Linked DNA regions of Homo sapiens. The protein of the gene in region 1 purifies or fractionates together with the protein of each later gene. This does not show direct contact. Each region holds a gene or a part of one and is shown in the gene's direction. Other genes may lie near its edges.

The links.
Region 2: the proteins of UBAP2 (region 1) and ZC3H14 fractionate together in Homo sapiens (co-fractionation; one large-scale study listed by BioGRID). This does not show direct contact.

Annotation. Positions count from the first base shown.
Region 1 is NC_000009.12:33,930,156-33,933,975, reverse strand, and holds part of UBAP2 (ubiquitin-associated protein 2), read left to right. Parts: intron 1-347; coding exon 348-486; intron 487-1,347; coding exon 1,348-1,414; intron 1,415-3,820. UniProt on the Homo sapiens protein: Recruits the ubiquitination machinery to RNA polymerase II for polyubiquitination, removal and degradation, when the transcription-coupled nucleotide excision repair (TC-NER) machinery fails to resolve DNA damage. May promote the degradation of ANXA2.
Region 2 is NC_000014.9:88,621,854-88,625,203, forward strand, and holds part of ZC3H14 (zinc finger CCCH domain-containing protein 14), read left to right. Parts: 3' UTR 1-750; coding exon of another isoform or gene 751-865; 3' UTR 866-3,116; coding exon of another isoform or gene 3,117-3,274; 3' UTR 3,275-3,350. Other genes in the region: EML5 (echinoderm microtubule-associated protein-like 5), read right to left, coding at 751-865, 3,117-3,274. UniProt on the Homo sapiens protein: RNA-binding protein involved in the biogenesis of circular RNAs (circRNAs), which are produced by back-splicing circularization of pre-mRNAs.

The DNA of each region.
Region 1 (3,820 bases):
ATATTAGGCTCAGCACCTGTTTTTCTTTCTGGATGCATCTACAGCTTAGGTTCCTTTAGGTGTGAAAAGTATGTCCCCATATAGGATAGGTTGGGTTATAAAGGTGTCATTTCCTATTCTTTGCTGCATCTTGAACAGCTGACCATGGTGTGGTGTCCTTTGATAGTGTTGTTTGACAGACAAAGGGCTATCTGGCGATATGCTTGGCATTTTCCTGGGGAATGTAACTTTATGGACGTCTCAACTGAGGCTGACATGTCACAAGATATTGAGCATATTTTCAGGCACTTAGGATTGGTTTTAGAAATAAACAGATCTGCTTCTTACAGCTACTTCATCTGTTCCAGCTCCAAAGACAACAGGCCCTCCCTCTGCCCTCCCGTCTGTGAGCTCCCTGCCCAGCACCACCTCCTGCACTGCACTTCTGCCGTCCACATCCCAGCACACTGGCGACCTGACTAGCAGCCCTCTCTCTCAGCTTAGCAGGTATGGGGAAGGTGTGGGCCCAAAGTGAGAAGTACCTTGGGGCAAGTCCTGGAGCTCCTGTAGAAGGTTGCTTTCATGAACAGAGCACACTTGTTGTCTCTGACGTGATGTCCTGGGCTTTTGCATTACGACTGTAGCTTAGGTTTTGGCCAGGTTGTTCCTTAAAACCACCAGATATGGAAACCTTGCCTGCTTGTACCGCCTCTGCTGGCACAGAGCACTGGGTCCCCTGGGAGTAGGGTGAGGCCAGCAGCTCCCTCCTACCTGTCTTCACCCTCCAGAGGGTGCCTGAGCCTAGCCTCTCTGGGCATCGCTGGGCCCATGTCACTGAGGTGGAATGAGAATGATGGATTTCTGAGCAGGTGTCTGACTTGAACTTTCCATGGCTGAAGAAACGATGTTATTAGAACAAGGTGTAGGAAAATGGGTGGCGTTGCTACCTGTGTCTTCTGAGGAGTGTTCTCCATCACTCTTTAGCTAGGAGCAAAAGTGGATTTGATGGGAATTGGCATGTGGAGTTGAGCATAGGAACTTTGATCCCTCGTTCACAGATTGAATGGGATTGTCAAGGATGACCGTGTTCTTAGTGCAACTCTGTCTTCACTTTTCGCATCTGAGGAGCAAATGGATGTCGTTGAGGGAAGCTGGCTCTGGAGTTTTCCAGACCTCATGGCGAGTCATTCCCGTCCACCAGGACCCCATCACTGGGCTCTGTGGGGATAAGGAATGAGGATGGGTCTGAAGCCGGTCCTGTGCTAGGGACTATGATAAGTTTGAATCTAGCTCACTGACCCACGTGCGTCTTGTTCATCTGGAGTCACTTGTTCAGGTGGACATACGGCGCTCTGTTTTGTCTTCTAGTTCGCTCTCCAGCCACCAGAGCAGCCTCTCTGCACATGCAGCCCTCTCCTCGAGCACGTCACACACAGTAAGTGTCTGCGCGGCTTCCTCTTCCTCCGCCATGCTTGGGGAGCCTGGAGCTTAGTCACATGCAGCTGGGGCTTCAGTCTGATTTTTAGTGTCTGATAATCTAGAGTTGCTTGGCTGAAATGTCTTGATGGCATGATCTGGTTCGAGCTTCTGATTTCCTGGGCACCATCTGGGGACATCTTGCTTTCTAAGTTTGTAGCGCCTGGGAAGAATCATTGCTCCAGACCTTATCTGTCATTGGCAGGAGTGTCAGGTGGTGACCTTGCTCCCAGGAATTTGCTGTTTGATCTTTCCTCGTGCCTTCTTTCCTGACTCAGACGCAGAGATTGCAAGAAGGTCAATGTTGGAGAAGGGAGTCTAGATGGTGGAGGGCAGGAGTGGAAGCAAACATGCACTGCCGAGAAGCCAGGCAGGAGGGCTGGAGTCGGCGCGCCAGCTTTAATTTTCCTCATATGCCAAAGAGTAGCCCTAGATTATGGTTATTGAGGTGTGGCTCAGTGGGTCGTGGAGCCGTGAGCATGGCTTTCAGTGGTAGGAGTCAGCCAGATTGTGGTGGGTTGCGGAGTGAATGGTAGTGAGATGGAGAGGAGGGAGGAGGATTGTAGAGGGCATGCAATGAAAACTTAAGAGAGGCTGGAGCCTCTATTGGGAGGATAGAAAGGTGCCTGGATTAACAAAAAGTGCATGCTCCTGGACAACAGGAGGTGTTGGGCGAGGTTGGAGTAGGCAGGTCCACAGGCTGGGAGGAAGGATTAGGGTGCAGACGAATGGAGGAGGCAGGAAACTGATGAACTTGGTGTCCTCTGAAGAAGACAGCAGCTCACCAGCAGAGTGAGGTGGTGGAAAAGGGACATCCTGTCCTTTCCTCTGGATCTGGCTAATGCTGTGGCTTTCATACTCTAGTGTTCCAAGTCAAACCTTACACAGAATCTTTTATCATAAAACACACAAACTGCCACTTTCAAAGGAGAGCATAGTGTGGACACCTCTGCCTGTCCCTCTGCCCCTGCCCTCTGTGGCTCATGGGAGTGGTGAGCTGACCTCAGCAGGAGTGCCGTGGAGCTGTCCTCTGTGTCCGTGCCACTGCTGCCTGGGAGCCCAGTGCTCCTGCACTCATGGGGAGCTGCACTCTCCATCTCCTCAAAAAAAAACCTCCAGACCATGTATTCCAGCCTGCCACAGCCAGAATCGTCTCATCCAGTGGGTCCCATACTTTGTCAGCATGACAGAACTGTGACATTGCTAATACAGTTGTCCCTCCATATATGCAGGGGATTCATTCCAGGACCACTGCATACACCAAAATCTGCACATTCTCAAGTCCCACAGTTGCCCCTGTGGAACCCACCTATAGGAAAAGTCAGCCTTCCAAATATGGGTGTTTTCAAATTATGTATGCGTGCATTGGGTTGAAAAAGAAATCTGCCTGTAAGTGGACCCATGCATTTCAAGCCTGTGTTGTTCAGGGGTCAACTGTTTGTTCATAATATTTCATCTGAAAAGTTATGGAAAGATAGACAATGAAAAGTTTTTCTGTCTCTCATCTACTTGGCTCTACCCTTACATTTTCTCCATCCTTTTAATAAATAAAAGTCAAAACACGCAGTGCATACATGTAGTCATTTCCCCATTATCATCCGCTTTTTTTTTTTTTTTTTTTTTTTGAGATGCAGTCTCACTCTGTCGCCTAGGCTGGAGTGCAATGGCGCAATCTCAGCTCACTGCAACCTCCACTTCCCGGGTTCAAGCGATCCTCCTGCCTCAGTCTCCTGAGTAGCTGGGGTTACAGGCGCATACCACCATGCCCGGATAATTTTTGTATTTTTAGTAGAGACGGGATTTCACTATGTTGGTCAGACTGGTCTCAAACTCCTGACCTCGTAATCCACCCGCCTCGGCCTCCCAAAGTGGTGGGATTACAGGCGTGAACCACCGCGCCCGGCCATCATCTGCCCTTTTTATTCTTTTTCTCTTGTTACATAAATGAGAGTATTTTATGTACAGTGTCCTTCAACTTTTTTTTCCCCACTTGTGTATCCCCACAAGTGTATCTTGATGTTTCCATGTTGAAACTTAAGGGTTTTTTGTTGTTGTTGTTGTTGTTTCCCCACAGTTCTGCTTTATGATGTTATTTAAGGTTATTTAAGCAGCCGTCCATTTAGGGTCGTTTTCAGTCTTGATACCACAGAGAATGTTGCATTTGATAACCTACATATGTTGTTTCATGTGTATAGCTGTATGTAGCGGGTCAGTACGTGATGTGGAACAGCAAGGCATTTATGATTTTATACACATTTGCAGATTGCCCCGCATAGTGATTCAACCCTGTTTACCTCCCACTGGCGGTGAATGAAATATCCTATTACACCATGGCATCCTCAAAATGGTGTTATTAAACATTTGT
Region 2 (3,350 bases), on another chromosome or scaffold:
ATTTATCATTTCTTTGTGATGGAAACTTTCAAAATCCTCTCTTGTAAATACCTGAAAATACATAAATACGTGATTCTTAACTATAGTCATCCTACAGTACTACAGAATACTAAAACATACTATTCCTATCTGGCTGTGTAAACTTGTATCCTTTAACCAGTCCTTCCCTATCCCCCTCCCCCTCCCCCTTGTCCGCCTCCAGTAACCACTATTCTACTCTCCACCTCTGTGGGATCAACTTTTTTAGTTTCTGCACAGGAGTGAGAACATGTATTTATCTTTCTGTGCCTGGCTTATTTCACTTCACATCATGTCCTCCAGTCTCATCCATGTTGCCACCAAGAATGACAGAATTTCATTATTTTTTATGGCTGAGTAGTATTTCATTGTTTGTTTACTGCACGTTTTATCTAGGGAATGTGTGTTTTTTTAAAAAATGGAGACAGCTGTCCTAATATGAGTCAACTGCCAAGGGCTTTCAATTATGTCTACTAGAGTTGTTAAATTGGCAGATTCTAGAAAATATTGGAGGTTTACATACAGTATTTAGACAGAATAGCTTCCTAGCTTATGCACCACACTGGTGCTAACTTTGGCAAAGAAAGCAGCAAAGACAGAGTAATGTTGGCAAGCAAATCCATCGTTATGCATTATTAAGTATTGTTCATTAGGCTGCAAAGGGTGAGGGAATCACAGTAATAACCACTTTCTGTTTTCTGCTGCACTGTATCAGCTCATGGAACATCTTACTTTGCCTCTGCACACAGAACGAACACAATCTGTGGCTTGTCCTGTCTCAAGCCTGAAGGCACGGCACCGCCTCAGTTCCTGATCCCACAGTTTAACCGCTCCTCCTTCTTTTGACCTAAGTAAATAACCAAGCCAGAGTAAGTGTTCATTATTGGCTACTATAATTTTTATTATAAACAAATACCAAGTTATAAGCAGAATCTTTTTTTTTTAAAAAGGCCCTGATATTTATAATTTACCTCTAATATTCTTGTAAACTTTCTATGGCAATTTGAGGATATACTATATCTCAGTCAAAATAAACATCCAGTTTCAGTGAATTTTATTTTGAGAAATACTCTTTTTTTCTGACATGAGCATAATTTTATTTAGCCTCTACAATACATTACAATACATTATCCTCTCTCATAATACTTTTTTTTTTTTTTTTAAGATGTAGTCTCGCTCTGTCTCCCAGGCTTGAGTGCAGTGGCATGATCTAGGCTTATTGCAACCTCTGCCTCCCAGGTTCAAGCGATTCTCCTACCTCAGCCTCCCGAGTAGCTAGCATTACAGGTGTGCACCACCACACCCAGCTAATTTCTGTATTTTTAGTAGAGATGGGGTTTCACCATGTTGGCCAGGCTGGTCTCAAATACCTTGACCTCAGGTGATCTGCCTGCCTCGGCCTCCCAAAGTGCTGGGATTCCAGGTATGAGCCACTGTGCCTGGCCTCATAATACTTCTTGATTAGGAAGATGTAAAAAAACAATTTTATTAAAAGGATAATGGAAATGTAAGGCAAAATAATAGAATTACAAATGCTATGCTACAGAGTTGATTTATTTATTTTTTTGAGACAGAGTGTCGCTCTGTCACCTGGCCTGGAGTGCAGTGGTGTGATCTCGGCTCACTGCAACCTGTGCCTCCCAGGTTCAAGCGATTCTTCTCCTTCAGCCTCCCAAGTAGCTGGGATTACAGGCACCATGCCTGGCTAATTTTTGTATTTTTAGTAGAGATGGAGTTTCACCATATTGGCCAGGCTGATCCCAAACTCCTGACCTCGTGATCCGCCCACCTCGGCCTCCCAAAGTGTTGGGATTACAGGCGTGAGCCACTGCAACTGGCCCAGAGCTTATTTTTGAAGGCCAAAACAGAAGCATATTTATTCCCTATCAGGTGTTAAAATATCTCACTGGAACAGTTTAGCAGGCTTCTAGTGAGTGGGGGTGTGCAGGAGTAAATGACGTGGGAAATACAAGTGTTGGAGGACGAAATAGAGCCCATTTATGGATTTTATTCCTGGAAGGGCTGAAAAATGTATTCCTTCCTTTTCTGCTAGATGAATTGCTTGTCTGAAAGCATGCCTATGTGCATTCTTCCTTTATGTAAAAGGCACAAATTCTGCGCTTGTGTTTAATTAACATATGTGGGTTCTTTCAATCCTGTATTGAAATGTACTTCTTAGTCAACTATATGTCACATTTTTTTTTGTTTTTGTTTTTGTTTTTTAAATGGGGTCTCACTCTGTCACCCAGGCTGGAGTGCAGTGGCACCATCACAGCTCACTAAAGCCTTGACCTCCCCAGGCTCAAGTGATCCTCCCACCTCAGCCTCCTGAGTAGCAGGGACTACAGGCATGTGCCACCACACCCGGCTAATTGTTGTTTTTTATAGCGATGGGGTTTCACCATGTTGCCCAGGCTGGTCTTGAACTCCTGGGCTCAAGCGATCCACCTGCCTCAGCCTCCCAAAGTGATAAGATTACAGGTGTGAGCCACTGTGCCTGGCCTACATGTCATGTTTCAACATGCATATGACTATGTTGGTGACAAATCAAATCATAAGTATCTGGTTACTGTTGGGAGATTTGAAAATCACTCAGAAGAGACCTCTTCTCAAATTTTGAGGTCTTGTATAAAACAGTTTAAATTTGCCTCAAGCAAAAGGAAACAAGGCAGTTCTCTCTAGTTCCCTCATCCTTTTCTAAAGCAACAATGTGCATTCTACTCCTTAGAATCCATTCTGAACAAAAAGAGAGCAGGCAGTCAAAATACAACCCTGGCTCCAGATTCCCCCATGGGCCTCCTACTCAGCAAATCATACACAGGCATACAGACATTAAGAAAAGTAACTCAACTTGTAGGACAACTACCTATCCACACCTCAGAAAAAGTATCACCCCAACATGAAAAAAATTGGAAGTGAATTAAGACCAGAAATGAGAATCAAATAGAAGGCACATAAAAGGTAATAAAGGAGAAGCATATGAGGAGGAAGGTCGGAGAGGACACTCTGTGTAGCCTAGAAACAACTAGAATAATTAACTGCAAACCTCAGGTAGGTCACAAATGCATAAATATTCTGTGAAAAGAAAGAGGACTCACGGCCTTTCCTTTCCCCCAGTCACGATAAGTCCATCTCGCAGGGTGGTGTACATGGCAAACACAGGCCCGTTGTGAGCTCTCGCCACGATTCTACACAATATGTGATCTTTCCACACACAGACATCACCACTGATGGTACCTGTAAACGTCAAGTTATTCTGAAAAGGAGTGGGGGAGGGGGAGACAAACTCATCAAAAGTTCAAATAGAGTTTAAATAGATAATTTTCTATGTA